Homo sapiens: one gene and its partners. The protein of the gene in region 2 purifies or fractionates together with the protein of the main gene of each other region. This does not show direct contact. Each region holds a gene or a part of one and is shown on either strand. Other genes may lie near its edges.

Evidence for each region.
Region 1: the proteins of P4HA2 (region 2) and COL12A1 purify together in Homo sapiens (co-immunoprecipitation; 2 studies listed by BioGRID and IntAct, with this or other methods). This does not show direct contact.
Region 3: the proteins of P4HA2 (region 2) and SIPA1L1 purify together in Homo sapiens (co-immunoprecipitation; one large-scale study listed by IntAct). This does not show direct contact.
Region 4: the proteins of P4HA2 (region 2) and VWA5B2 purify together in Homo sapiens (co-immunoprecipitation; one large-scale study listed by IntAct). This does not show direct contact.
Region 5: the proteins of P4HA2 (region 2) and ZNF865 purify together in Homo sapiens (affinity purification with mass spectrometry; one large-scale study listed by BioGRID and IntAct). This does not show direct contact.
Region 6: the proteins of P4HA2 (region 2) and TTC28 purify together in Homo sapiens (affinity purification with mass spectrometry; 2 studies listed by BioGRID and IntAct, with this or other methods). This does not show direct contact.
Region 7: the proteins of P4HA2 (region 2) and BZW2 fractionate together in Homo sapiens (co-fractionation; one large-scale study listed by BioGRID). This does not show direct contact.

Annotation. Positions count from the first base shown.
Region 1 is NC_000006.12:75,203,254-75,207,512, forward strand, and holds the start of COL12A1 (collagen alpha-1(XII) chain long), read right to left. Parts: upstream 2,801-4,259; 5' UTR 2,524-2,800; intron 2,087-2,523; exon of another isoform or gene 1,760-2,086; intron 1-1,759. UniProt on the Homo sapiens protein: Type XII collagen interacts with type I collagen-containing fibrils, the COL1 domain could be associated with the surface of the fibrils, and the COL2 and NC3 domains may be localized in the perifibrillar matrix.
Region 2 is NC_000005.10:132,206,560-132,211,239, forward strand, and holds part of P4HA2 (prolyl 4-hydroxylase subunit alpha-2 isoform 2 precursor), read right to left. Parts: intron 3,965-4,680; coding exon 3,725-3,964; intron 2,773-3,724; coding exon 2,579-2,772; intron 1,326-2,578; coding exon 1,149-1,325; intron 1-1,148. UniProt on the Homo sapiens protein: Catalyzes the post-translational formation of 4-hydroxyproline in -Xaa-Pro-Gly- sequences in collagens and other proteins.
Region 3 is NC_000014.9:71,738,599-71,742,395, reverse strand, and holds the end of SIPA1L1 (signal-induced proliferation-associated 1-like protein 1), read right to left. Parts: intron 3,379-3,797; coding exon 3,235-3,378; 3' UTR 1,187-3,234; downstream 1-1,186.
Region 4 is NC_000003.12:184,232,579-184,237,258, forward strand, and holds part of VWA5B2 (von Willebrand factor A domain-containing protein 5B2), read left to right. Parts: intron 1-599; coding exon 600-819; coding exon of another isoform or gene 820-831; exon of another isoform or gene 832-876; intron 877-997; coding exon 998-1,155; intron 1,156-1,687; coding exon 1,688-1,819; intron 1,820-2,052; coding exon 2,053-2,177; intron 2,178-2,574; coding exon 2,575-2,730; intron 2,731-3,573; coding exon 3,574-3,684; intron 3,685-3,764; coding exon 3,765-3,973; intron 3,974-4,059; coding exon 4,060-4,171; intron 4,172-4,647; coding exon 4,648-4,680.
Region 5 is NC_000019.10:55,611,448-55,616,127, reverse strand, and holds part of ZNF865 (zinc finger protein 865), read right to left. Parts: intron 2,536-4,680; 5' UTR 2,510-2,535; coding exon 1-2,509. UniProt on the Homo sapiens protein: May be involved in transcriptional regulation.
Region 6 is NC_000022.11:28,673,341-28,676,840, forward strand, and holds part of TTC28 (tetratricopeptide repeat protein 28), read right to left. Parts: intron 1-3,500. UniProt on the Homo sapiens protein: During mitosis, may be involved in the condensation of spindle midzone microtubules, leading to the formation of midbody.
Region 7 is NC_000007.14:16,701,050-16,705,729, reverse strand, and holds part of BZW2 (eIF5-mimic protein 1), read right to left. Parts: intron 1,184-4,680; coding exon 1,061-1,183; intron 1-1,060. UniProt on the Homo sapiens protein: Translation initiation regulator which represses non-AUG initiated translation and repeat-associated non-AUG (RAN) initiated translation by acting as a competitive inhibitor of eukaryotic translation initiation factor 5 (EIF5) function.

The DNA of each region.
Region 1 (4,259 bases), on a different chromosome or scaffold from region 2:
TCAGGGTAATTTGGAAAAGTATAATAAACCTTTTTAATTCTCTTTTTTCTTCATTTTGTTCTGCTTTCAAATATGCAGCTCTTTAAGATCTGAAATGGATTATACAGAAATATGTAAGGCCCAGCTGAAACCTGACCCTCCTGCTAACTGTGTTGTTTTCACATCTGATAAATCCTTTACCTGAGATGAGGGAAAAACAACTCCAAAATACATAATAACAAATAAGGCAGCAAAATGGAAGAAGCAAGACACCCTTGTCTGTTTTTCCAACGTGTTTTTAAATAAAAATTATCAATAATAATCTTTGTATTTAACTGTTTATTTAAGCTGGAAGATTATTAGTATACATACCCCAGAGGAGAATATGTTCTGTTCCGATTTTTTCTAATTTTGTAATTACATTATGAATTCCTTAAAGACAAAGAATCTTATTCATCTTTGTGGTTTCCCAGCACACAGTAGGTACTTAACCCATGTCTACAGAATGGAATCTCCTAAAATAGTCTAGGGTTCAACCCAAAGACAAAAGCTACTAGCAAGGAACTGAACTGGGAAGTTGCCAGTGGCAAAACATAAAAAGAGTTGACTCTGAAGTACATAATTTATTGTAAGCCAACAGCCTAGGCCTCAGGAAAAATGGAGGGGGATAGGAGACTGTCCTGCGTCGGAATGCAAAAATGAGCCAAAGGTCGAGGCCTCTTTGAGAAAAGAAACTGACAATCTCCAACGATGACTTTCCAAATTATTGGCACAAAGCATGAGGGCAGCTTTCCTCAGCCTGTGTGTAAATTGCATTTTAAATGTCTGATGAGCAGGCGTGCCAAATTGCCTGGAGCTCCTTTTTATGAAGCCAAGATTAAAATTTTGGCACTGCCCTAAGTATCTAAGGGGTCTAGCAATTTCTTTCTTCCTAATTAACAACTGTTTGACATTTCTAACCCTCTTCTACATCAGTGAAAAGCAAGAGGTGAGACTGGCCCATTGTTCCAATCATCTTGCCTTAACTTTGGTATAATAATTTCCAACTCAGTTGGCAGTCGTGCTCGCGAGAAGTTAAAGGCGAACAATCGACCCACCGAAAAGCTGTGCGCAGATTTTTTTTTAACAGCTGAACTCAACGAAAACCTGAGTGGTAACACTTTTGCTGGGTCTCGATCGCCACCTGTCGCTTTCCCGACTTAGCTGCAAGAATGAATCATCTCGCGCCGGGATATCGGAACGCCAGCCAGCCAAGCATCCCGTCAATATATGTTTTAAAAAAGAAAATGCTTTCTCTCCTTTTTAGCCAAAACATTCATTTGAATGCTTAGCAACACTTCATTGAGCATTCTCAGACATAAATATCTGAAAGCGGCCGCCCCTACGTGGCAGCGAGGACTCCCTCACTTCACCCTCATGAATAAAAATGAGTCCACTGGGGTGGGAGTGGGGGCTAAGTGGACTCGTCCCCTTCTGCCAACTCGCCCCCTCCCAATTCCCTGCTGGAAGAACCCAATTCCTTAACTCCCGCGTCCAGTTAAAAAGAAAATCACACACACACACACACACCGCGTGCGCGTCGCCTACCTCCTCTCCCACCCACCACGACCTTGGCATTAGCCAAAGGAGAGCTTAGCGTTTATTTCCTTTCCTGCCCTATCCTTCCCCAGCATTCACTAGAAGACTACAGAGTCCGGATCGAGAGTCTCCCTGGCCCAGAGTCCCAGGGAGCCCTGAACTGGTCACTGAAGGGCTCCCGAGGTCGCCCGCTTGGGGGTACCTGTTCCGCTCGCTGAACGAGTCCGGCGACCCACGCTTTCTGATCCCCACAAGTCTAGGATCTGAGTGGGAAACCGCCGCGGAGATCTCACAGACCCCGAATAGGGCCTCCACCAATGCACCGGGAGGGAGTCGGAGAGGGGACTTTCTCCCGGAGCTGGGAAAAGTCCGCCAAGAATGAGTACCCTAGTGCTGCCTAACCCACCATCTCGGATGCTCTGAAAGGTAGGGGAGGAAGGAGCCAGAACACTCCACTAGGAATCTGTTACGAGATGCCACACACACCCGTGCAGCCTCGACGAGCTGCAGAGCACTCAGCGGGCCCTCCAAAGAATTCCGCACCGTGCGTCACCAAAATACCTTCCCAGCGCCCCCGCCGCACGCCTGCCCTCCCCGACAAAGCCACAGCCGCGAGATAACCAGGGCCCTGCTGCCCCAGAACCCGGCGCGCCCTCCATTGAAATCGACAGCATCTACAGATGAAACTCCTCTAGAAACGGAAACACTGAACGGGATGCTTTGCGTGCACAAAACCTTGCTCAGCTCTTAAGAAAAGCAACATTCCCCTCTCCCTCAAAAACCCCAAAGAATCACCAAATCCCAGTATACAAGGCAACGCTCTAGCCCACCTACACTATTACAAGTCCAAACTGTCCTCGCCCAGGATTCTTCACCGCTCCGGGCAAGGTGCAAGCTAGACGCCGTTTCCCGAGTTGTCTCTGGGAATGATGGGGGTAGGGGAAAGGGGACAGAAACCAGGCTGACCTGAGGCGGCGGCAACAGGGAGAGGTAGCGGCGGCGACAGCGGCTTCCCGGCGTCGGAGAAGCTGGTGCTCGGTGTGGCCCCCACACGCCCCGGCGATAGGCGCTGCACTCCAGGAGCACCTGGCGGCCGCCGAGGCGTGGGCAGCTGCGGGGAAGTCCAGGAGGAGGAGGAGAATCCCAGGAGGAGAGGCGGGCGCGGCAGGAAGACTGGAGATGGCCTGAGCCTGCAGCTGCCGGCGCGCGGACGCGTCTGGGGCGGTTCGCCTTAGCCAAGTGGAAAGAGACTCCGCGCCGCGGGCTACTTAATAGAGGGCTGTTCCCAGCTCTCAGTTTACTCGGTTACGAAACGCCTGAGAAGGTGGACGGCTGCCACGGGGTGATGTATGCTCCTCCGGCGGTGAAGGAGGTCTACTTTTGGGAACGTGTGCATACTTCGAGCATTCCTTCGGCGTGAGGTGGCGATCGCCGTAGTAGCAGTGCCCCGCTGGGGGGCGGGGAGAAGGGAGGGAGCGTAGAGGGGGACAGCCGCAGCCGGGTTCCCTGCCAAGGGAAGCCGCGTACTCCGCCACTTGGGGCGGACTGGGATTTCTTTAATGAAGCTCGGGTTTCCCTATCCCTGAGATTTCTTTAATGAATTTTTCTACATTAAGAACAATGGGGAGGGGACCGACTCCCATTTTCGGAAATGCAAGGATGCGTAACCCATTCACCCCCGCTCCTGCGGATCTCCATCCTTCATCTGATATCACCACCTCCATCTTCCTCCCCCTCTGTCCTGGGTGCACTTAAAACCGATTTACAGGATTTCCATTAACTAACTGTCTGTACACGCGGCGCGCCTTCTGTCTTTTTCAATCTCCAAGCGCGATTGGAAACCCGGACAGCCGCCCGCGCGGGGCTCAGTGATGGGATGGCTTTCCCAGTCCTTTCTCACTCCCCTGGTGCTTCAGGACGGAACTGGGAGGCTTAAGTTGAGCCAAAAGAGAGGGAGAGGAAACCTATGAAACCCAGGAGTTCTCAGAATAGGAAGCCGCTCAGTAACAAGTTGCATCCACTGCAGAAACTTCTCACCCGGACCAGAGCAAAACCTGGCCCCGAGCGGAGGCTTCGGACTGAAAGCTCTGCCCTTAAAACCTCGCGGAGCCAAAGGGGCGAAGAGGAGTAAGTTTGAAACCCCAAAGCACCCCTCCACACACAGTACTGGAGAAGCCAAATAGGGGGCTGATATTCTACCAACAACGTCGCCTCTTCTTACAGCCCCCTCCATCCTGGCATCCTACCCCTTGTTCCTGGGCAGGGAGTCTGGTACTCAGGGTTGCCAGATTGTACAAGGCGCACGGGAGGAAGCTTCGAGCGCTCACACCAAGAAATCAGAAAAATGCTACTGGAGAGATTCTGATTATAACGTCTGACCTCAGTATAGGCCCTGCACCGTTTTGGCCTCTTGAAGCCCAAAGGTTACTCCTGTAACGCTGGGGGAGCGTTGAACAACAAAGGACCGGGGTGGGGCGCAAGGGAACAGAGGAGCTGCTTCTCTGGAACTAACCGCCCGCCATAGTAGAATCGGAGGGCATGTTCCCAATGTAAATCTCTCTTCCCCATTGGCTCTGACGTCTGCAAATTTGGCCTTCCCTCTCCACTAGGCGTGATAGCCTCCAAACTTGCCTTTCGACTGACAAGAACTTGTAGGGCGCTCCCCTTTCTGCACATCTCCCCACACACAGGCTGCCTCCAGC
Region 2 (4,680 bases):
TGATGGGATATGGCAGCAAATAGGTCTCTTTGAAAGATGTCAAATGGGGAACAAATCTTTTATGAACTAGAAACAGAAGAATAATTTTAAAACATGGCATATATACAAAACCAACAGCCAACTGCATTCTTAGCAGTAAAATACCATAGGAATTTCCAGGAAATTCAGGAATGAGACAAGGATGCCTATTCTACGTAATTATGCTCTAGAAGTTCTGGGCAATTCAATAAGGTTATAAAAACAAAGGAACTACAAGTATCAGGAGAAAATAAAATTTTCCTTATTTCCAGGTGTTAATGCTATCCAGGCAACCAAAGAGAAATCAGCTAAAAACCAAAAAAGAAATAAGTAAATTCAACCACTAGCTGCAATCTGTATGAGTTTGCTTTTTCATAGGTAAAACAGAGACAGTGACATCATTATGAGCAGCTGTTCATAACTGTGACATAACACTTAATATATATGTTAAGCACTTAGAAGTTCCTGCCACAGTTAAGAATTCAGTAAACATTAGCTCTTACTATGAAATGTATTTGTAAAATCAATAGTTTGGCATATAATAGTAAACTAATAAAATAATGTAACCAGTTAAAAATAATAATGAAGAAATAAAGTAAATTAACAGTAACAAAGAAACTACCAAGGAATAAACTTAAGAAATGTTCAAGGCTTATATGAAGAAAACTTAAAAAGATATGGAGAGACCTGTCATGCCCTTGGATGAGAAGACCCAATATTATAAAGATATACATTCTCCTCTAAGTCATTCACCTCATTTACAGTCCTAATCAGGAGCTCCACAGGACCCAGCTTCATAGCATCCTATGGAACATTTCCAAAAAACTCACCCACGCACCAGTCTCCCAACCAGGTGAACTGACACACCAGTGTAGACCTGCCCTGTTCCCAGCGTGACCTTCTATGATAGCACTTGGCTGTCCACATTGGTTACCCTGTTCTTCTTCCACTGGACCATGAACTCACAAGGTCAGGCTGAGTCTGAAGCATCTCTGTATCCCCACGGTAGGCCCATGCTAGATATGGATAAAGGGTGGCTAGATGGGCAAACCAACCACCCATAGTGCTAGGGATGAGAAAAAGGACCTTCCCCCTTCAGTGACCCGAGAAGGACCTACAGTGACACCTACTTTAGGTTTTGCGATCTCCTTGATCCTCTCGATTTCCTCATCAGACATGACATCGTAGTACCTGACGATGTGCGGGCTGTCCCACTCGTCCTCCTCTTTGAAGGGGGCAATGAGCAGCTGTGGGGCCCTGTTGCCATGGTGGTACCTACAGAAAAGCCTCTTCTGTCTACGGGGTGTCTGGAAAGCACAGAGTAACAGGCCCTGAGCTGAGTGAGTCCTAATCCTCGGTCCCAGTCTGGCTGTCTGCAGACACTGGACTCACCTCATGGCCAGCAGCTGCTCCCTCCCACCACACCACAGAAGAAAACAAAAGTCCCAGCAGGTGGGCATGCACAGTGGCTCATGCCTGTAATCCGAGAACTCTGGGGGGCCAAAGGATAGCTTGAGACCAGGAGTTTGGGACCAGCCTAGATGACATAGACCTGTCTCTAAAAAATTAGCCAGGCATGATGGTGCATACCTGTAGTCCCAGCTACTCAGGAGACTGAGGCAGGAGGATTGCTCAAGGCTGGGAGGTCAAAGCTGCAGTGAGCTATGATTATACCACTGCACACCAGCCTGGGCGACAGGGTGAGACGAAAGAAAGAAAAGAAAAGGAAAAAGAGGAAACAGGAAAAAGAGAAGAAAAAGGAAGGAAGAAAGGAAGGGAGGGAGGGAGGGGAGGAGAGAGGAGGAGAAGGGGGAGGGGAGGGGGAGGGGAGGGGGAGGGGAGGGGGGGAGGGGAGGAGAGGGGGGAATGGGGGGAGGGGAGAGGAGAGGAGAGCCCCTTCAGCTTAACTGGCATGAAATAACACCCCACAAATCATGCAATTTTTCTTCTCTCCCAAAATCACCTCACATCCTCAAGTCCCATGGCAGAAAGTAATTCCTGACCCTTTTCGTGAAGACTTGAGTAGGTCTGAAGGGCTGGGACAGGGGAGAAACCTTTCTTGGTGGAGGAGCCAGTAGAAGCCATGCAGACAGGGGCATGGAAAAGGCTCAGAGCCTGTCACACCTGGGCCTCCTCAGGAAGCACTAGGATCCCAGGGCTCTCAAAGGCTCGATACCAAGCTCTAGTACACGCTGGTGTCTTTACCACAGAGACTTACTCTCCACTTATACCATGACTTCTTTTGGGGCCTGAGGTACGTCCACCCATTGTTTTCTTCCCAACAGTGAGTGAAGCAAAAAGTGGGACATATTGGGGTAAGGAGGCGAGCTCACTGGTAACTTAGAGGAGCAACACTCTACCTGGGGCACGAGGGGAGAGAGTCTCCTTTCCTACACCTCAGAGAATATCCACATGTCAGCCTCAGGAGATGCCATGAAAAACTGGGGGATATACTGAGAAAAGTACCTACAGAATAAAGAACACCTTCCCCAAATCTGCCTGCCCAGAGCCAGAGTCCAGGTCCACAGCTTTGGCACCCTAGCCCCCTCACACATCTCACCAGTTTGACACCCTCCCCACGACAGAGGCTCTCGTAAACATCCCTCTCAGGCAGGTAGTCCACAGGCCTCTCATAGATGCCTTCTGGGGTTGCTAGCTCAGCTTCTGTCTGATTTGTTAACGTTTTTTCTCTCTCTTCCTCCAATAACTGCTCAAAGTACCGCAGATTCCCTCCAGCTCGTTCGTGGCTTGGGTCTAGAAAATGCAAGGAATGAGAAGGAAAAGGAAACCACAAACATCTGTTAGGTCATTTAGAGAAATTATTCTGTAAGGGTTTCTCTCCCAGCAGCTCACCTGCATGCTGCATTCTACCTTCCACAGCATCTAACCAGAGTACGCTGGTCGTAACTGGAAAACCAACAGAGGCCAGGTGCGGTGGCTCATACCTGCAATCCCAGCACTTTGGGAGGCCGAGGCGGGTGGATCACGTGAGGTCACGAGTTCGAGACCAGCCTGACCAACATGGTAAAACCTCATCTCTACTAAAGAAAATACAACATGGGGCATGTGCCTCTGTAATCCCAGCCACCTGGGAGGCTGAGGCAGGAAAATCTCATCAACCCGGGAGGCGGAGGTTACAGTGAGCTGAGATCGTGCCACTGCTCTCCAGGCTGGATGAGTGAGACTCTGTCTCAAAAAAAAAAAAAAAAAAAGGTAGATGAGTTTTAAAGGCACAGTGCTTTTGGCCTTCTTCAGTCCAACAGCACAAGGCACACAAAGTATCAATGCCATATGAAGTCCTACTATTAGACCTCAGGCCTCTAATAGCACCGCTACTGTTTGTCACTGTAACAATCCTAAAGTACAACCTGACTCCTGAGCTGCTCCTGATGTAGTAAAGGTTCCACCCTGTGTAGTCCTGCATGGTGACAGATACACCATAACAGAGTCCTTATTAAAAAGGCCCACAAGTGCCACAGGCCTGAGCGTATCTATCAGCGACTGCGCAAACCTAAGGCCAGGATTGAGGTGGGTAAGGAGCTAGTAAGAAGCTGGACTGGTCCTAAAGTCAGTAAGGCATTAGTCACTGGCCAAGTGACAGGGTAAACTGACTCAGTCCCAGGAGAGGGGTCAGGCAGATGCCAGCACAGTGCAGTTCCTCTGCCACTCTCCATTCCCATCTTACCTTCCCCTAGAATCTCCTTACCAAGGGAGAGCAGGCGGCGGGTGAGCTCCAGGGCACGGTGCAGATCACCCAACTGGAAGACAGCATAGCTGAGGTAGTCCAGCACCTGTGACTTGGTTGTGGTGGCCTCCTCCCCGGCATCAAGCTGCTTTAGCACCTGCTCCATCCACAACACCGTATGATAATAGTCCCCTTCATTGTAGGCCGAGCGGCCCATCCCAAAGCAGTCATCCACACTCAGCATTGCCTGGTACTTGGTTCCTACAGCAGGGGAAGTAAATTGTCAGGCTCCAAAGAGCCTCTGGATTAGGGAAAGAGATTCCCACTTCAAGGAAAGCCTGAGCCACTGGATAGGGGGCATCACCAAGCAGAACTCCATCGGACATTTAGACTGCATATCCTAAAGGGCCACTGACACAGTGAGCACAGACAGATGGCCCAGCCCTGCCCTGGACTGGGGTTCACAGCCACCTCTTAGCCTCAGATTCCCCATCTCCCAAGTGGGAAGGGGCCTTTTTAGGGGGAGCCCCAGAAACCCACCAGGAAGCATTGTTGAGGACAGTGGGAAGGTCCTGTGGACCACAGAGAAGAAGATGTCTGGTGGGCAGTTTGCCATATGAGTCTAGAGGATGGAAAAATTAGCTGAATATAAAAAACATAAATTTAGGTGGCAACCAAGCCATGGGTGAGGAAAATAGCTTGCAGGAACTCTGAGGAAAGAATGGAGAAGATGACTAAGGCCAGAGCTCCAGGGAGCACCTACCCAGAAAGAACAGACAATGAATAACCCTGAGAATGAACTAAAGATAGGAGAAACAGAGGGAGCGGGAGTGGTGTGAGAGACACCAAGGGAGGCCAAGAGCCAAGGTTGCAGTGCCAGCTTTGGCTGTTAAGTGGCAGGGACCTTGCTGAGTATCAGTTCAGTGGGTCTTATGACCAAAGGTCATCTGCTGTAGAGGGAGTGCTGGAAAGTGACC
Region 3 (3,797 bases), on a different chromosome or scaffold from region 2:
ACATTACCCAAGTCTTCTTTTTTTTTTTTTTTTTTTTTTTTTGAGACAGGGTCTCTGTCGCCTATGCTGGAGTGCAGTAGGGCAATCCCAGCTCGCCGCAGCCTCGACCTCCTGGGCTCAATCTATCCTCCCACCTCAGGCAGCTGGGACTACAGGCATGTGCCACCATGCTCAGCTAATTTTATTTTTTGCAGAGATGAGGTCTCACTATGTTGCCCAGACTAGTCTTGAACTCTTGGGCTCAGGTAATCCTCCTGACTTGGCCTCCCAAAATGTTAGGATTACAGGTGTGAGCCCTCACACCCGGCCAGTCTTCACTGGGTTTCTGACCCATGTGTGCCATCTTGCACTTTAATATCCACTTTGTTTATTGTGGGAAAACAGCACCTCACAGTTACTGAAACATCGTACTGTGAGACTGAAATCTGGGTTCAGATCATCATTTTACATTTAACTAGAGGCAAACAGTGTAAGTTTGCTGGGCCTGTTTTCTTTGCCCTTGGACTATCGTTCTTATCCCCACCTAAAGAGTTAGTAACCTAACCCAGCTTATCACCGGCACCAGATCTGGAGCGCAAGCAACTGGCCTTCCCAGTCAGCTCATGGATGAAGATCTTCCATCAATGCAGGCCCAACAGCACCTTCTCCCAGGGGCTCCCAACCCATGTGCCAAGCCCTACAGAAATAACGTATAAGCCCTCCGAACCATGTAGGAATCATGGTCTAAACAGACCTTTTTAGCTTGTTAATTGGAATATTTTGTGGCATCCATTCTTATGCTAGTCCAAGAACTCTGGAATCTGTAGAACTGTTGAACCAAATAAAAGGAAGAAACTCTACTGTCAGCACTCAATTAGCTGCGCCGCTGGAGAGGAACAGTGACGTGGTAGATTAAAAAAAAATTGGTTCGGTTTGACTTTGGAATGCACTGATTTTTTTTTCAGTAGATTAACTTTTCTAATTATATTTTGCACAGCCTAATATTAACAGGCATTTGTATTCCCTGGGCACACAACATCTGACATTGAGAGCTGGGAGATGCAGCCCAAAAATGTGCTGGTCTCAGAGAATAACAATGTTATGAAAAATCCATGCGTGGATAATGAAGGGGAAGCTAATTATGAAGTGCTCTGCAAATATTAAATCATAAGCAGAGAAGGCAAAATAGTAATTCTCTATCGACATGTGGACAGAGTAAAAAAGTTTATTAACATTCTGAGAAGGACAGAAATTTTCAAGAATCATCATTAGTGTTAACAAAGCTTGATGAAAAAATTCGGATGCAAGGAGGGTCAATGAGTTATTGGGTGGTCTTTCAAATAAGCAAACCTCAAGCAATAATACCAAAGTGTTTTAAAAGAGCGTTTAAAATGAATTTTATTCTTTGAATTTTACAGGTAGTCTTTAGAGGCTTCAAACAAGAACTCTGTTGCAAAACTCTAATAAATAGCTTGCCCCAAGTCCCCAAACAAAATGTAAAACAAAATGAGAACTAAACTCAGAAGGATAAGCAAGACTTCAGAATGCTTGGATGTTAGCAATATTTCTCATTTACAAAGAGATATCAGGCAATGTACAATCTCCTTCATACAAGTCAAAGAGAGAAAGAGACAGACAATTGAAATCTTCACAAAGCACTCCGAAATCTTCCTATTTCCATGATAGAAATGTCACCAGAAAAAAAAAATTCCATGGAGAAATCACAATCAAGAATGAAACTGTAGCATAAAAATCTGGTAGTGAATGTAGCAGGGAGAAGAGAGGAAAATCCATCCTGTTTCTTTCAGGGATGGAGAGAGGAAGGAATTGAGATTACTTGGGTGAGGGAACTTCCAATCAGATGCCGCTAGAGTGCTGAATGTTCCCTTAGACCAGAGTTGCCACTGAAAGGGCAGAGGGGTCGGTTTAGTGACAGTTATGAAGGCAACAAACAAAGGGGTCTCCTCAGGTCAGTCAACACTGGCCAGCCCCATGTCTCTGTGCTCTACAGCAGCCTTGGAAGAGTGACCCAGGGGCCCAAAGCAGCCTGCATCACAAGACAGCAAAAATAGCACATCAATAATTTCTGCAGCGGAATCCTTTGGATGGCCATGAAAGGATGCAGAAAATGCCGTGCTGAAATTTCACACTGGGACATGCAGGTTTCAAAAGCCCATTCTAGTATCACAGTCATTATTCCTAACAAGCAATGATTAAAATTCACAATTAAACATTCACTGTTAGCTTCTCCTAGTTACAAATACTGGTGAAGTCTTGCTCTGGAGAGAAAGATTAATTTAGAGATATGGTCATTTTCAGCAAGCTAAAAAAACCAGTTGTGCCACATTTTTATCTTTAAAAATCTTTAAAACGTATACTTTTGACCAAAATGCATTCAAAATGCAGACAGATAAGGTTTTAGTTTGGGGGAATTCTGAAATCAATTAATGTTTGGAGCCAGGAAGCTGTAAGAGAGATTGATTCCAATTTAGTGGGGCTCAATTAAGCCAAACAAAAAAGAGTCTTGCAGCACAAGTGGGACCATCTTCCTGGGGAAAGGGAGAAGCAGGAAATGACCTCACAATGCAGGACTGAGAAGGGGTGTGGCCTGCAGGCACTGTCAGAGCTGCTCTGGTTTACAGACTTGCTGTTAAATATTTAACTCCGGTCCTGCTGATCTCTGGAGGACAGGTACAGACAGCACTAGCTCATGCACGAGTCATTCAAGGGAGGTAGGCATTTTCTCAAAGCAACTCCCTCTCCAGGCATTTTAGGGAAGAAGGTAAGGAAATATCCCTCTCTACTCCCCAAACAAGTTATAAAAACATTCTTTTTCTAGGAATAATGATATTTGTTAGAATAACAAGGGAAAGCTTGGGTTACCTGAAGTTGATAAGAAAGCTGATGGGAATAGAGGCGGATGGGCCAGGGGGCGCCCTGGTCCAAGGCCCAGTTTCTTCTTAAATACATAACAGATAAAGATATTGTGCAAAAAAATAAAGACATTCACATTTTAGCAGTTAAACTTTTATTTTACTGTTTAAAATTTTTATTTACTTTTTTTGTTTTTCTTTTCTACAAAAGGCAGGTGATGATTGTTGATCTGCAACTATTGTGTTGTGCACTCCCCGAAAGGGGGCAGAGTAGGAAGCCAGGGAAGGTGCTCTGAGGATGCTTTCTATGGAGGGAATAAGGGCTGCAGGACACTCACTGGAGGGAGTGTCTGGGCCCTTCTCCTGTCCTCCTCAGCCTTCCCTAGCTCATGTCTATGGTGTTGAAGACCCATTCTGTGAACTTCTTCAGCTTGTCCGAGGCGTTCTGGGACTCCTCCTGTAGCCTCAGGTTGTCCTCTCGCAGGTGCTGCACCTCCGCCTGAAGGTGAGCTTTGTCTTCTTTTTCCTGGGAGGCAGAGTGAAGTAGAAAAGCTAAGAGGTGTTGGCCCCACCTTGCCCAGCTCTTCTGAGTAATAGCTATGGACCCGTTTTGATCTTTTGTCCATTTCTATTCTTCGTTCCTCCAAACACCTGTCTAAACGGACTGGTATCAGGTGCTAAGACACTCTAAGCTCAGGGAGCAGGGCTTCTAGAGAGATTCAACCCTGCAGGATTAGCTCTAAGTAATCCTGGAATGTAAGTACATTAATGTGTATTTTAACATCCTTGTTAGTCAGGATTGTCTTAAATTTTAGACAATTGTGTTGGTGGCTGATGTCTTGATATATAGTCAAGGCCACCCAAAAAACAAAACATTCAGTTCTTTTGGTGCAAAAGCCCCAATAACACCGACTACATGGGGGTCTGGGCTACTGACACATTACA
Region 4 (4,680 bases), on a different chromosome or scaffold from region 2:
TTATTCCTTTAGCAGCCCCACCAGTCCCCAAACAAACCTAGGAGCTAAATAAAACAGTGTGTGCAGTGTGCAAATGGAGCTTTATGTCCTCCAGCCTGCTTCCTGCTTCTCTATTCCTCCTGCCCGGGAGGAGTAGAGAATTCTGGAGCCACCTTAGTGGGCAATGGGGGAGCTCCTGATGGTTCAGGAGCAGGAAATTTATGAGCAGAGTGGGGTCCCAGGCCACAGGGAGATGTCTATCCACAAGGGATGGTGGCCAAGGGTTGAATGGAAAGAGGCAGGCAGGGGGAGAGGGGCAGAGGGTGTGGGTATTCCCAGGGCCTTGAGAGTGGACATGGCCCCTTCTCCTCAGCCTTCCATTAGCAAGGATGTCACTGCTGCTCTTGCCTGATGACAGCCAGATCTGTTCACAGTTAGTCTGCCTCTCCTGCCATCATTCATCTCATGCCTCCATCCTGCGTCACCAATGCATTAGCCTAGTGCCAACACGCAAAGTCCCCCTTGCCCAGGCTCCCTGACCCAATGCCTGCTTCCACATCTAGCTTCCTCCCTCTCCTCTGCTTCCAGCATGCTCTGACCCCATTTCTCACCCATCATAGGTCATCTTGTCTTGGATCTGGCCCAGGCCCGGTCCACGTTGGTGCTGCCCACAGGCATTATCGCCGCGGCTGGCACCATGACGGTGACCCTGCACAGCAGCCGGGAGCTGCCCTCAAGGCCTGACGGGGTGCTGCATGTGGCCCTGCCCACTGTGCTCACCCCGCTGGCCCCGCCAGGCCCGCCGGGGCCCCCCAGGCCTCCGGGGCTCTGTGACGACAGGTTGGGCCTATGGTGATTCTCTTCGTCCCTCCCTCGGCTTCTCTGGGTCTAGTGCGGGTGAGGGGGCACTGGCAGGGTACCCAGGGATGGGAAGGGTGAGGAAGGGCTGGGGCCAGTCAGCCGGAGGGTTTAGGGGCCTTCACAGTGGCCCAGTGACCCTCCTCATGCTCCCTTCCAGCCCCACCAGCTGCTTCGGGGTGGGCAGCCTTCAGGAGGAAGGGCTGGCCTGGGAGGAGCTGGCTGCCCCTCGGGACGTGTTCTCAGGCCCTGCCCGCTGCCCTGCCCCATATACCTTCTCCTTCGAGATGCTGGTGACTGGGCCATGCCTGCTTGCAGGTGGGTGCATCTGGCTGGCCTGCCCTCTTTTCAGATGCCCACTCCACCCAGTGTAGTGACTGGAAGGGAAATAAGGCTCAGGGATAGGAGGGACACAGGACAAAAAGACAGGGACCCCAGCCTCCGGAACATCTGGGTTAGTGGTGGGAGCATCCCCTGGTCACCTCTACCCAACACACACACCCCAATTTTATCAAGGTAATTTATTTATATCTCATCCCACCCAGCAGTGGGAAGAGAGATACTTACAATGGGACTAGTACCTGTGATGAAGTAGGTTTTCCTTACACAGAAGGTGGGGGGTGAATGCTAAATCAGCACCTGGCTGATGCATGACTCTTCGACCAGCCAGAAACCCTGCTGGAATCTACTTCCCAGCCCATGAAAGCAGGCACATCCTCCCTCGTCCATCTGACCCCATATAGATCAGACTCTGAGAGCTGACTGAATCAGCCATGACCCCTGCCAACATTTGCTGTCCCTGGGAAGGTGTTATGGCTACATCTCCCCTTCCTGCCTCTATGTCCCTCAGGCCTGGAGAGCCCCTCTCATGCTCTGCGGGCAGATGCCCCCCCTCATGCCAGCTCTGCAGCCACCATCTGTGTCACACTGGCAGAGGGCCACCACTGTGACCGGGCCTTGGAGATCCTGCTGCACCCCAGTGGTGAGAGACTGGGACACACCGTGGGCCGGCTCTGACCTGCTTCTACATGAATGGGGGAAGCATTTCTTAAGTGCAGGTTTCTGGGCCCCAGCCAGATGGACTGAGTCATCTGTGAGGGCAGAGCCTGTGGTGCAGGAAGGCTGGACCTGCAGGCTCCTCCTGGACAGTGAAACTGGGCACTTGGGGTCCAGAGGCAGGGCCTTCCTTGACAGAATTGTGTCCTCTCCTCTCAGAGCCCCATCAGCCACACCTGATGCTGGAGGGCGGCAGCCTGAGCTCAGCAGAATATGAGGCCCGGGTGAGGGCCCGCCGAGATTTTCAGAGGCTACAGCGAAGGGACAGTGATGGGGACCGGCAGGTACCGCCATAGGAGCCTGGCCTGGCCCCTGGCCTTGGCTGCATTTGTGCACAAGGAGCAGGCAAGCAGGCTTACATTGGAATGGGTGCGGGGAGGCCTCTTTTCTCGGTAAGATCTCTCCACAGCTGCCACCAACCATCACAGAGGACAGATGAGTATTGTCATTGGAGGGCCGATGTGAATCTCTCTGGGGTGTGTCTCAGAGGATGGAGGCTAGGTCTGATATAAACAGAAGACAGCCACCTGCCTTTGCTCCTGCCTTTATTCGAATTACTACAAAAAGATGTCCCCTCTGGGTGGATCAGACAGAAAAAGGCCCCAGAGCCAGTCCCACTGCCCACCCTCAACAAAGTAGCACTAAGCCTTGCCCAGGCTGACTTGGGACTCCCCCGCTCAGGTGTGGTTCCTGCAGCGACGCTTCCACAAGGACATCCTGCTGAACCCCGTGCTGGCGCTGAGCTTCTGCCCAGACCTGAGCTCCAAGCCCGGACACCTGGGGACAGCTACTCGGGAGCTACTCTTCCTTTTGGATAGCAGCAGCGTGGCACACAAGGCCCGTGGGGGTGTGGTGTGGGCAGGCCTGGGGGTTGGGTGGGGCAGTGGGTCTGAGGAGGGCTGGGGGCAGCCTCTTGAAGCCAGGAGTTACCTTGTTGCTTCAAACACCATCTTCCAAAGAGGAAGCAGATGGCAACTCCTCAGGGGATTCCCTTAGACAGCAGCCCTGCTCCAACCGCCAAACAGACACTGTCACGCTCTCTTGCTCATATTCACGCACACACATCTCTCCAGGATTCCAAGAGCCTCTCACACATAGACTCGCACTCAGTCACAGGGAGTCACTCCAATCACAGGGACACTCAAGTTTCATGTGTACCTCCAGAGTCCCACACACAGCCATGTGTACCTCCAGAGTCCCACACACAGCCATGTGTACCTCCAGAGTCCCACACACAGCCATGTGTACCTCCAGAGTCCCACACACAGCCATGTGTACCTCCAGAGTCCCACACACAGCCATGTACACCTCCAGAGTCCCACACACAGTCATGTGTACTTCCAGAGTCCCACACAGTCAGGTATACCTCCAGAGTCCCACACACAGTCATGTACACCTCCAGAGTCCCACACACAGTCATGTATACCTCCAGAGTCCCACACAGTCATGTATACCTCCAGAGTCCCACACACAGTCATGTGTACCTCCAGAGTCCCACACAGTCTCTCACACACACTTGGGGGCTCACTGGCACACTTTCCCTCACACCCAGGGCCTCTCCCAGGTTACCACAGCCTCTCACTTGAATCACAGCCTGGATAACGCAGTGATCTGGCTTCCCTTGCTCTGTATCAGGGCCCATGGGGCCGGCCTCACGCCGCCCTCCCTGGCCCTCCACAGGATGCCATTGTTTTGGCTGTGAAGTCCCTCCCGCCCCAGACGCTTATCAACCTGGCCGTGTTTGGGACGTTGGTGCAGCCACTCTTCCCAGAGAGCCGGCCTTGCAGTGATGTGAGTGTGGTCCAGGGATCTGGGGGCCTTACAGAGAGGTTTCAGCCCAGTGCGTCCCAGCCTGTGCCTTCTCGCTCCAGGATGCTGTGCAGCTGATCTGCGAGAGCATTGAGACCCTGCAGGTTCCGAGTGGGCCCCCAGACGTGCTGGCTGCTCTGGACTGGGCCGTGGGGCAGCCCCAGCACAGGGCCTACCCTCGGCAGCTGTTCCTGCTCACTGCTGCCTCACCCATGGCCGCCACTACCCACCGAACCCTGGAGCTCATGAGGTGGCACAGGGGGACAGCCAGGTATGGGATGGGCAGAACCAGATGCGTAAGACTGAGCCCCCACAAGGGGCTCCTGAAGATCACAGCTGCTTCCTTTCCTTCATCAGATGCTTCTCCTTTGGGCTGGGGCCCACCTGCCACCAGCTGCTCCAGGGTTTATCTGCCCTCAGCAGAGGCCAGGCCTACTTCCTGAGGCCTGGGCAGAGGCTGCAGCCCATGGTGAGCTTGAGCCTGGGCCCTGTTCCCTACACCTGGAAGTTTTTCTCCCAAGTTACACATCAAGTCTGAAACAGAACTCAGGCAGGCCATGGGGGCTCCTGGCGCCCTCACCAGGCCTTCTCCCCACTCCAATCAGGGGAAGAGCTGTTGGTGCTGTGAAGGCCAAAGGTGTCAGGACACTGTCTCTGACCACCCTCTGAATCCCATTTAGTCCTGGAACGGAGCCTCGTCCTCACAGTCTTGCCCCATCCATGTGGCAAAGCTCAGGCCAGGAGACAGACCAAATCCTGAGGGCTGAGCACTCAGCCCCCTGCTTGCTCCTACCCTCATTCCTTCTCCTGACCCCAGCCTGGCCCTGTGCCCCATCAGCTTAGGGGCTGGGCAGATGGCATCAGGGGAAGGGCAGCCTTCCTGCTCTGTCTGGCCGTATGACACCTCTTTCCTTCCCATGTCTTCCCTGTGGCCACTCCCCACAGCTGGTACAGGCTCTGCGGAAGGCACTGGAGCCT
Region 5 (4,680 bases), on a different chromosome or scaffold from region 2:
GGAGCAAGTCGTAGGCGCCCGCGAAGCTCTGGCCGCAGAGGCCGCAGCCCAGGGTCCGTCGCACCAGGTGCACGTACTTGTGAGTCACGAGGCCCAGGAAGTGCTTGAAACTCTGGCCGCACGTGGCACAGCTGAAGCGCTCGGGGCCGGAACTGGCACCCCCGCCAGCACCTGCCACCGCCGCCCCGCCTGCGTCCTCACCCCCAGACACCCCTGCCAGTGCCGCCACGGCCGCCCCCACCTCCCCCGCCAGCCCGTTGTCCAGCACGCTGGCCGCATCCGTGCCGCTGGAGCCGTCCGGGGGCTGCAGGCCGCCGGGTGCGGGCGGGAGCAGGCGCTCGGGGGCGGCCTGGTGGACCAGCTTGTGCCACATGAGGTTCTCGATGAAGCCGAAGGTCTTGCCGCAGGCGTCGCAGCCGTATGGCTTCTCTGCCATGTGGACCTCCTTGTGACTCATGACGTGAAAGAGATCCGGGAAGTGCTCGCCGCAGTCCGAGCAGGCGTAGCTCAGCCCATCGGTGGGCCCTGCAGACGTGCCCGAGGCCCCGGGCCCACAGGCCCCCGGTGTGCCTTGGGTGGAGGGGAGGCCGGCTGCCCCGGCCAGGGCGCAGGGCAGCTGGAGCCGGTGCACCTGGCGGTGGCGGGTGAGGCTCTGCGGGTAGCCGAAGACCTTGCCGCAGAGCTCGCACTTGTAGGGCCGCTCGCGCGTGTGCACCACGTGATGCTTGCTCAAGTGGAAGGATTCGCGGAAGCGCTTCCCACACACGGGGCACTGGTGGGGCTTCTCGCCCGTGTGGATGCGCTCATGGCGCTTCAGGGTCTCGCGGCGCCCGAAGCCGCGCCCGCAGATGCCGCAGCAGAACGTCTTTCCTGGGACGCTGGCGCCCGAGCCTCCCGCCCCGCTGGTCCCCGCGCCGCCGAGCAGCAGCGGGTGGGCGCCCAGGAGCGGGACGGGCACAGCGCCGTACACCACCGCCGCCGCGGCCGCCGCCGCCTTCTCGCTGTCTGTGGTGGGAGGGTCGGGGGGCAGGAGGTACGGGCCCGGGGGGAAGGTGGGCGGGGGCTGCGGGGCCGAGGCCGCCCCGTCCTTGGGCGCCTCCGCAGCGGCAGCGGGCGGGGCGTGGGCGGCCTTGTGGCGGAGCAGGCTCTGCGGAGCCGAGTAGGACTTGCCGCACAGGTCGCAGGGGTACACGGGCCGAGGCCCCCCGGCGCCCGCCCCCGCGTGGGCCGCCTGGTGCTTGAGGAGGTAGGAGGCGTCGCGGAAGGCCTTCCCGCAGATGCCGCAGGGCAGGCGCAGGAGGTCGGCCGAGTGCGTCTTCACGTGGCGCTTCAGACTCTCCCTGCGGTTGAAGCTTTTGCTGCACACGGAGCAGGAGAAGGGCTTCTCGCCCGTGTGGATGATCTGGTGCTGGTGGAGGTGACTGGGCTTCTTGAAAACCTTCCAGCAGAGTGGGCAGGCGAACGGGCCATCGCCACCCCCGGTGGCAGGAGGGGGCACCCCAACACCAGCAGGGGCGGCGCTCCCGTCTGCGGAGGGGGCAGGCGCCACGGGCGTGGCTGGAGGGCCCGAGGACACCGTGGAGGGGGCGGCGGCGGTGGCGGCGCTGGCAGCGGGTGCTGGGAGGCCCAGCGGCGGGAGGTGGGGGCCGGGCTGGGGCGGGCCCCCCGCGGCCGGTGGCACGTCCTTGTGGCAGCGGCGGTGGCGGATGAGGCTGGACACGTGGTTGTAGGTGCGGCCGCAGACGCCGCATTCGTAGGGCCTCTCCCCCGAGTGCACCAGCATGTGCTGGACCAGGTGCGAGGACTGCTTGAAGGACTTCTGGCACACGCCGCAGGGGAAGCGCCGCTCCATCAGGTACTTCAGTCTCCGGAAGTAGCCCTTGTCGTCCTTGGTGGGGTCGCAGGCCGCCGCCGCGGGGGGTCCTGGCGGGGTCTGCGAGGGGGCAGGAAGCGGCCCTGGGGCCCCCGCGGGAGCGCCCAGCCCAGGCGTCACCCCCGGCCCGGACGCGGGCCCTCCTCGCTTCAGGTTCCCAAACAAGTGCTGGTGCCCCGAGAGGTCCACGATGCCCCACTGCGGAGTGGGGAAAGCAGCGTCAAAGAGGGGAGGAGGGGGCGCCCCGAAGGCGGGCGGCAGGGGCGGATCGGGCTTCTTGGCTTGGGAAGAGGAAGAGGACGAAGATGACGACGAGGAGGACGAAGAGGAGGAGGAGGAGGACGAGGACGAGGACGAGGAGGGCACCTCCGCCTTGGGCTTGAAGGTGGACTGGGGCGGGTAGTCATACTGCGGGGGAGGGGGCTGCGGCGGGGGCTGCGGCGGGGGGCCGGGGGCGCAGGGCAGGGCCGCCACCGCCTTGGCGTGTTCCCCATACAGTTCCATGGGCTCGAAGCGCTGGTGGTTGAGGAATTCCAGGAAGTCGAAGGGGTAGCTCTGGAAGTGCACCCCGTCCTCGCCCCCGATGCCGCTGCTCCCGCCACCCCCGGCGCCGCTGCCCGCTGGGTTCGCCTCCATCTCCGGCGGGTGGGAGACGGGAGACCCTGTGAAGAGGAGGACGGGGCTGAGGACACGGCCGCGGCGCTGGGTCTCCCCGCAGGTGAATGGAGCTGTGCGCCCACTCATCCATCCTTGTGCGGATCACCCCCTAGCCTTCCAGATTTAGGCTTCCAGTCCCTCTGCCTGTCCACCCCAAAGGGCAGCCCTTCCTCTTGGCTCCCTGGCCCCAGGACTCTCCTACTCACCTTCACCTTCCCTCTCTGTGTTCTCAACTCCCACCCACTCCCCACCTCTTTTCCTTCTCTAATTCCTTCCATCTCTCCCCATCTTTTCTGGGGTCCTGACACAGCTTTGTAGAGGGGACCCTCTCCTCCACACCACCTGCAGGCCCTCTATTATTTGTAGAAACGGGGTTTTGCTTTGTTGCCCAGGCTGGTCTGAAACTCCTGGACTCACGCCATCCTCCAGCCTCCACCTCCCAAAGTGCTGGGTGATTACAGATGTGAGCCAGCGCGCTGGCCTGGGCCGTCTCTACTTTCTCTCCTTTTCAGACTCCAATTGTCCAAGCATCCTGGGGGCCTCTGGACTCAGTTTTCTTTCCAAACCCTCTCAGACCCTCTGCTGTCTCTCCATACTCCTGCACCCTACCCCACCCACAGCCCTCCGTCCTCATCCCTTCAGGTTTTATCCTAAAATGAGCATAATGATAAGGGGAATCACAGTTTCTATCAGCGTAATTAGGAGGGAGGACTCTGGGGCCAGAATCAAATGTAAGCCCTGCCACTTCTAGCTGTGTGGCCACGGGCAAGTGACTGAACCTCTCTGTGCCTCCATTTCCTCATCTACACCTGGGGACCACAAAGCACATGCCTACCTCACAGGACTGTGAGGATTCAACACACACATATGTGCAAGGCTCTTAGGGGGCGGTTCCTGGCACTCTGTAAGCACTCCGTACATAGAAGGTATGGACTGGGCACAGTGGCTGACAGCTGTCATCCCAGCACTTTGGGAGGCTGAGGCAGGAGAGCTGCTTGAGCCCGGGAGGTGAAGGCTACAATGAGCTGTGATCACATCACTGTACTCCAGCCTGGGTGACAGAGCAAGACCTTGGCTCTAAAAACTAAAATTAAAAAATTGAAGATACGATACTGTTATCACTGTTACTACTAGTAGTAGAAATGGGGAAGTCAGGACAAGCCTAGAGAACTGAAAAAAGTCAGTATGGGGAGTGCACTCTTTTAATATTAATAGACAGTAGAAAGGAGAATTTGCTTGCCTGGGAGAAACAAATTCCAGCAAGGGGGCTGGCATATAGTCAGAAGGTGGTCTGATACAATCAAAACACAGACCCTGGGCTTGGACAGACCTGGGTTCAAATCCCATCTCCACTGGGATCCACACTTTCTCCATGTTTAAAATGGGGGAACCCCTATACCGCAGGGAGATTCAACAGGGTTGGAACAGAACATAATGAAACACATGCATCAGCAGAATGCATTCAACCCCCTGAGCTATTTGTACCATCCATGACATCACACACCTGGGCTAAGCCTAGCAACAGAAGCAGGGAGCTTGAGTTCCATCCTTGCCCTTAGTGGGGCTTCTCCTGACCCCCCCATGTCCTTGCCCTTAGTGGGGCTTCTCCTGACCCTCCACCCCCGGCATCATTCTCTGGCACCTCCTTTACACGACTTTTCATTCCAGATGGCAGGTATCCATGTGTGTACCCCACACCACACCAGACCCTCAGCACCCGTAACTGATCTCCGAGTTCTTGGTCTACTTGCTGGCCTGGGGAAGCACCTCCACCAAGTGGGCGGAGGGTGAGTCGGTGAAGGGCCCATGAGGTCTGACCCGCTTCCTGTCCATCATCCCTACCCGATGGGGGCCAGGCTCTAAGCCCAGCCCGCTATGGGGGTCAAGGGGGTTCCTACCAAGGCCTGGACCCTTTATCCTCTATCCATCGGGCTGCTCTCTCCTCCCACAGGTGAGGGGTGAGTGTCTCTTCCACCCCCACCCCAAACGCCATCCTGGAGTGAGATATTTTTAGTCTCCAGCTCCGGGTGTCCTTGTCCTTGGACAAGACTCAACATCCCATGCCCTTCACACCCCCTCCGTTTAATCTGATCTCCGGAAAGAGGACAGGCTTGGCTGGGGTGGTAATTGGAAGGCTGTAGGTGGAACCT
Region 6 (3,500 bases), on a different chromosome or scaffold from region 2:
TCCAGCCTGGGCGACAGAGACTCCGTCTCAAAAAAAAAAGTTAACTGCGAATGTTAAATAAGAGAATGCATTATTATTGTATGTAGCTTCCCCCCCTTACCTGGTACGTACTTGGCATTTCTATGCCATAATGGAAGTCAAAAATCACCATGATATTGTTTCAACATACTATGGACGTAGTTCAGAAAATGTTAGGACAAATTTGATATCAACATTCTTTGCACTCACAGAATTGCATAAAGAGTATCACTTTGGTAAAGATGAAAATTACTAAGATTATTGTCCTCTAATGTCAATCATCATAAAATGAATATCAAATTAGCATTGATACTTATATTTTGCTAAAACATGCCTATAGAAAACTGGTTAGTGTTTGTTTTTGGAAGACTATAGATAATACAGTGTGAATATACAAGAAACATGAGATGTTCCAAGCATCATATTTGTATCATACTATGTCTCTAGTTTCTCTTCTTAGAAAATAACAATGCACCCAGCTGCTGAAGAGACACCAAAATAAATGTTCTACCAAGTTTAAGTTCAAACATCAGGCTTCCCGCTAACAGTTTTTAAAATAGCAATAATTTAAAGGAAGAAAGATTGTAACCATGAAATTTAATGAAAAAATATTGTTTCTGCTTTCAGGAAAAAAAGTAGTGAAAAAACAGCACACAAAACAAGAATCATAGAGTAAAAATAAAGAGCTTTCAATTATACTTTTATTATTTTTAATATTTAAAATTCACTGTCAAATATTCTATATAGCAACCTTGATTTCACATGCATTTGCAATACAACTATGTGGTATGAGAGACTTGTCTTCTTTAGTGGTTCCTCAAGCGCTCACAGGGATTTCTTGGGTCGTAGAAAGGTGATGGGGACAGGAAGAGGCTTGGGGTTTCTGTTTGTGGTTTTTTCTTTGTGGTTTTTTTTTTTTTTTTTTTTGGTCTGTGGTTTTGGAGTTTTTGTTTTTCTTGGTTTTTGATTGGGTTTGTCTGTTTTTTGTTTTGTGGCTCACTTTTAACTGGAATTAATTAGCAGAAGAAGATAAAAAACAAATATCAAATCCCTACCACAGGCAAGGCATTGTTCTAAATATATACCTACATCCTCTTTTATTTAACAATTCTTTGGAATGGATATTACTATGCAATTATACATATGAGAACCATAAGATGCGTAAGAGTTAAGACCTGTTGGCTGGAGCAGTGGCTCAAGCCTGTAATTCCAGCACTTTGGGAGGTTGAGGCGGGTGGATCACTTGAGGTCAGGAGTTCAAGACCAGCCTGGCCAACACGGTGAAACCATGTCTCTACTAAAAATACAAAATTAGCTGGGCATAGTGGTGCACATCTGTAATCCCAACTACTTGGGAGGCTGAGGCAGGAGGATCACTTGAACCCAGGAGGCAGAGGTTACAGTGAGCCAAGATCACACCACTGCACTCCAGCCTGGGCGATGGCGAGACTCTGTCTCCAAAAAAAAAAAAAAAAAAAGGTAAAACATGATCATTGTAAAAATCCCAGCTGTCTTTTTTACAGAAATTGATAAGCTGATCCTAAAATCCATTTGGAAATATAAGGGACCCAAAATAGCCAGTCTTGAAAAAGAACACAGTTAAAGGACTTACACTTAATTTCAAAACCTATTACCAAGCTACAGTAATGAAACAGTGTAGTACTGGCATAAAGACAGAAAGAAATACACATCAAGAGAACAGAACTTAAGAGTCCAGAAATAAAACCTTATATATGTTCAAGTGATTCTCAAAAAAGATGTGAAGACCATCAATAAAGGAAAGGACACTCTTTTCAATATATAGTGCTGGGATAACTTTTTGTATCTATATACAAAATAATAAATTTGGACCACATACCACACACACCTCACACCACACACAAAAATTAAAACAAAATGGATCAACAACCTAAATATAAGGGCTAAAAGCATACAACTCTTAGAAGAAAACATAGGGGTAAATCATAGGGCTAAATCTTCATGACCTTAGATTTGGCAATGGCTTCTTAGACATGAAACCAAAATCATGAGCAACAAAGAAAAAACAGATAAGCTAGACTTCCTCAAAATTAAAAACTTTTTTGGCATCAGAGGACATTATCAAAAGAGTAAACCGGGTGTGGTGGCTCACACCAGTAATCCTAGCACTTTGGGAGGCAGAGGCTGGTGGACCACTTGAGCCCAGGAGTTCCAGACCAGCCTGGGCAACACGGCAAAACTCCATCTCTACAGAAAATACAAAAATTAACCGTGCCTGTAGTCCTACCTGCTCAGGAGGCTCAGGTGGGAGGATCAACTGAGCCCAGGGAGGTCCAGGCTGCAGTGAGCTGTGATCCTACCACTGTACTCCAGCCTGGGCGACAGAGTGAAACCCTGTCACACACACACACACACACACACACACACACACACACACAATGTAAAAAGAGGCATGAGCCTCTTTTATAGCTGCAGTGGCTCACATCTGTAATCCCAACACTTTCTGGGAGGCTGAGGTGAGAGGATCTCTTGAGGCCAGGAGTTCAAGATCAGCCTGGGCAACATAGCGAGACCCCTTATCTACAAAAAATTTTTAAATATTTGCCAGGTGTGGTGGCACGTGCCTGTAGTCTTAAACAATTATCATATGACCCAGATAGTCTATTCCTTAGGTATATACCCAAGGGAAATGAAAATATACATCCACACTAAAATTTGTACACAAATGTTCATAGCAGCATTATTCATAATAGCCGAAAATTGGAAAAAAAAACTCACGTGCCTATCAACAGAGGAACTGATAAAATATGGTATATCCATTCAAAAGATTACTCAGCATTAAAAAAGAATGAAGTGCTGATATACGCTACAGCATGGATAAACCTTGAAAACACTGTGCCACGTGAAATAAGTCAATCACAAAAGACCATATGTAGTAAGATTTCATTCTGTGAAACCTCCAGAAGAGCTAAACTCAGAGACAGAAAGTAGGCTAGTTATTGCCAGGGACTAGGGGAAAAGGCAATAAGGATGACTGCTAATGGGTATGGGATTTCTTGTGGACTGATGAAAATGGTCTGAAAGTATCTAGATACCTGTCTTGTTTGTGTGATTCTGTGAACATATTATAAACCACAAAATTCTGCACTCAAGGGGATTTCATGGTAGGTGAATTTATCTCATTTATCTTTATCTCAATAAAGCTTTTTAAAGACACTTTAAAAAGACATATCTGTATAAGCTACAAAAATAACACACTGAGAGACTAAAATGCCTAATTTTTCCATTTTTCTTCTTCAGCGCAATCTCAAGTCCAAAAGTCTTTCCTTCCTATATATGCATATTTTGTCCAGTGAAACAAGAAACTCTATTTTTTTATTAGAAATAAAAAAAAAAAAAAGCCAGGTGTGGTGGCTCACAGTTGTGCTTCCAGCTACTCAGAAGGCTGAGGCAGAAGGATCACTTGAGGTCAAGACTGGGAGTTCAAGACTAGCTGAGGCAAC
Region 7 (4,680 bases), on a different chromosome or scaffold from region 2:
GGATCACCTAAGATAAACTTTTTATTCTTTTTTTTTTTTTTTTTTGAGATGGAGTCTCACTCTGTTGCCCAGCCTGGAGTGCAGTGCTGTGATCTTGGCTCACTGCAACCTCCGCCTCCTGTGTTCATGCCATTCTCCTGCCTCAGCCTCCCGAGTAGCTGTGACTACAGGTGCCCACCACCATGCCCGGCTAATTTTTTATATTTTTAGTAGAGACACGGTTTCACTGTGTTAGGCAAGATGGTCTCGATCTCCCGACCTCATGATCTGCCCGCCTTGGCCTCCCAAAGTGCTGGGATTACAGGCGTGAGCCACCGTGCCTGGCCTGAACTTTTTATTCTTAATTGAATTCACTTTATTTATTTATTTATCGAGATGGAGTCTTGCTCTGTCATCCAGGCTGGCGTGCAGTGGCGCAATCTTGGCTCACTGCAACCTCTGCCTCCTGGTTCAAGTGGTTCTCCTGCCTCACCCTCCCGAGTACCTGGGACTACAGGCGTGAGCCACCATACCTGGCTAATTTTTTTGTGTTTTTAATAGAGACAGGGTTTCACTATGTTGGCCAGCCTGCTCTCAAACTCCTGACCTCAGGTGATCCACCCACCTCTGCTTCCCAAAGTGCTGGGATTACAGGTGTGAGCCACCACACCTGGCCTGAATTCACTCTTACTCATTATTATCCTTCCACTTTATATTTCCATTATTTAAAATTGCCAGTTAATTGGTAAAGGTGTCATAAAAATCTATAGAATTCCATAATGCGTGATTAAGCTAAATGTATTTTTCTCCTTTCACATCTACTAATCATTTCTTCCTTATTGTCCTCCATCAGAGTGGATAATTTAAGCATTTCATTTCTTTCTTTGTTTTTACATGTAGAGATTTTTATTGCCGTGATTTCAGAAAGGAAAGCTAAGATGTTGGCAAAATGTTTGATACGAAAGATAACTCTAGAATTTTAGTTTTAGAAAATCAAGTAAAATCTGTGGAAGAGGTAAATATTTTGACATATAATGAGACAGTGTTTAAAGGTCATCAATGTTTGTAAACAGAATCATACCTTCTTCTGCATTTTGTAACCACTCAACAAATTTCTTCATCTGGTCAAGAAAAACACTTTTGCCTTTAGCAACATGTGCTTCCTTATACCATTTCAGTATTGCTTCTTCGCTCAGAACATCAGCTGCAATTTTAAATCAAAGATTTCAAAGTTACTATACAAATGTCATGTTTCAAAACAACTTCATGTATTACAGTTTAATAGAAAGCAATCATTTTAAATATAAAGCATTCTGTTACTTATCAGAAGAGAGGAACCAAGTTGATTTTCATGTAGCATAGTGCCATATTTTGATAGCTTACTAAAGGCTTAAGTACTGATGATGATGATATACATCTTCTTAGGCATGATATAATGCAAGCCTATAGCTCACTACTAGGACTTGGAAATCTCTCACAGTGCTAATTTGCTGGTAGGAAATAGAATTGTTTTGTAATTTTGCAAATGAACCAGCAATTCCAGCATTTTAGAACATTTTGGGTCCTGCCAAGTTCAACCATATCTTGATTAAAGAGTAACCTCAAATGACCAGTGTCTTTTAAGGAGATTGGGATTTTCTTTTTTTAGGAGAAAAATGACAAAGGAAAAAAATGTAGATAGTATGCAATAATGATGTTAGCAATTAGATATAAAGAGGAACTTCTGGGCTATGTTGTGGGAGTAATACACACCTAAACTGAAGTTCTACACTTTCTCCATCACTAAATCACGACTTATTTTCCCACAGTATATCCCAAATTACAAGAGTAATATTTTTCCTCTACTACATTAAGACAAAATAGACATATTAGCTAATTTCCTACAGGTTTCTAAAAACAACAAAAAATGTTAACTATCTTTTGTCTAAAACTCTAAATTCCACAAATGTGCCTTGATATTCTCAACATAACATTAATTGAGAGTATTTAATGTTAAGAATAGGAAGGAGAATATAAAAATAAGTGTACATAGTCTCCCAATGTTCTAATGGGTTGTTCTAACATTCTTCTAATGTTCCAATGTTCTAATGGGTTGTTGTTTGGGAATCTGTAGTGGGAAACGAGACAGAAAACAGGTACAAAGCATTTATTATTGTCCCCGAGATGTGCTCAATTCATTACAAATACTGATAAAGCCATATAATGTTAATAAATTACTTTAATGATATCTTTTCAGTTAAAATATAATTTCAACTTATGAAAATGACAGAAACAATTTAATATTGTTTTCATTTAAAACATCACTGGTAGTTTCATAACAAAAACATTGGCTTTTTTTATTTTTAAAGAATTATTGGCTCTTGGAAAATGTTCTTGAATTAAATTGAAGAGGCTGAGCTGACTAAAATGAACATGATTTGTTTATGAAAATAAAAGGTTTTTTAAAAAAACATGTTTATTATCATCACTAAAAACATTACATTTTGCAAAGGAAGCAAGAAGTCTGGATTTACTTATAGAGCCTGGATGTAAGAGCTACAATCAGGGGTCCTGTAGACTTATTCTTAGCTTCTAGTTATTTTAGCTCTTTGTTTCCAGCTCTCCACTGAGATAAAAGAAATTTCTACCAGCCATCAGAGCCTAATTGTCATAGAGCTGAGGAGCAGGCAGTTGTGTCCCGAGGAAGTGACCTGTTATTGTGTAAGACTGCCTTGCAGAGACTTTTAAAGAACATTAACAGGGATTTTAAAAGACCCTTTTATATAACTTGTAAATTATCTTTAAGATGCTTATGATTAGATCAGTAATTATCAAACTGTTTGGATCATGTCTTCCTGCCTGTAGGATAATTTTGAGCATATACACCCAACATATGTATATTTTTGAGTTTATAAATTATATTCATGCACTATTAAACTATCATTATTAATGTTCTGCACAAACAATATAATTTTAAACTGTGACAAACATGGAAAGGAGAATTGTTTTTTTTCTCCACACCTTAATGAATTGAGGATGATACAAAGTACAGGTTGGAAAGCTGATGTAGACTGCAGTTTAGTGATACTATTTGTCTGAGCTTTCCTTTTGAAGGTTGAGAGCACATTCCTGTGTTTTATTGCCTCACAGAGGCTGAAGGAGACCATGCAACTACTAAAATGCTTGTCAATGTCAGTGCTTGTGAAAAGCACACTAAATGATAGGTAAAACCTATCAAATGCATTGTTTATTGCAAATCTTGTGCCTTGATATTCTTAAGTTACCATTAATTGAGAATATTTAATGTTAAGAATAGGAAGGAGAATTTAAAATAAGTCTACATATTAACGGCGCAATGTGGAGTTCTTAGAAGAACCCAGGGTAGTAACAACTACTTGCTGAAAGATCAAACTTCTAGTACCAGAGAATTATTAATTAAAAGCTACTGAAGTATCTACACAGAGCACCATATGAGGCAAAGTATGAACATCGAAGAGTTTAAGAAGAAATTAAACTTCTATTTAGTGAAAGGAAAGGTCTGAAAAGGAAGGAACTCCTTGAGGGACAAAGAATTCAGACAATTTTTTCCCTCACTAAGGATAAAGTAGGGAAAAGAGTTAATTAAAACTGAGAAACCATTTTTGGTGGGATATTTCATAAATGCCTATTAGGAATATAGAATAACAGTAAAAGACAGTAAGAAAGGAAGACATTGTATGATGGCACATAGAGACTGGAATATATGTTTTCCCCTTCTATCTGGCCAACTTCTTCATAATGTCTGGTGAGATACATGTACCTTGAGAGCCTTCACTTCTCCCCCTCCAAATTACCTTTAACAAGTTAGGTGCCCTCCCTCTGTGGTCCTATCCCTTCTGACACCCTCTGTGTGAGGCTTATTTCAGCAATTGACATGGTGAGTGTAATTCTTTGTTTTCTTCTACATCCTGAAATTCAGGAAGTCAGGGACTATATTTTGTTCATCTCATTTCCAGCATTTAATGAAAGACCTGCCCTATAGTATCGATTCAACACACGTTTAAGGAATAAATTTGTTAACTTGATGAGAAAAAATAAATATTTCTCAATTTGTAGAGTTCTAATGTATTCATGAGGATCGAAGAGACAATACTGTAAAAGTGGCTTGAGAACTGCTAAATTTTAGATCATGTTAGTTATTTAGAAACTTAGTCTGAAACTATGTCACTTGAAACTCTTGAAATTCAGAAATTTTTTTATTAGGAATGTCACATAGGGACACAAGTCAAAAATAATTTACCCTAAGAATGCTGGGAATATATGCTGAGAAGGGCACTCACCCTTTTTTAGAACTAGAATAAAAAACTCCTTTTAGAAAAATTTGCATGCAGGATAGAATTTAACCTAAAAAATTTCTGCAAACAAGAAAACCCATGATAGAGATAATAACAGTACTTGACAAGGTAGTTTTACACATTTTAGACCATGCTGAGTCTATGGGACTTATCTTCAGGGAAAAAAGAAGAGAAAATTATTTTTAAAAGTCAATAATGTGATGCTTGAAAGTTAGCAATGGATTTACTGTTTCTTACTACCTTAAAAATATGCAAATCTAGATTTTAATACAGAGAGTCTTTGCAAAATGACCCATCACCACTTTTTTCTTTGCTGACTAGCATTATTTAGTTTATTTGCTTTTATTCCACTGTTATTTATGTAAAAGATTTATAAATCTTTCAATAA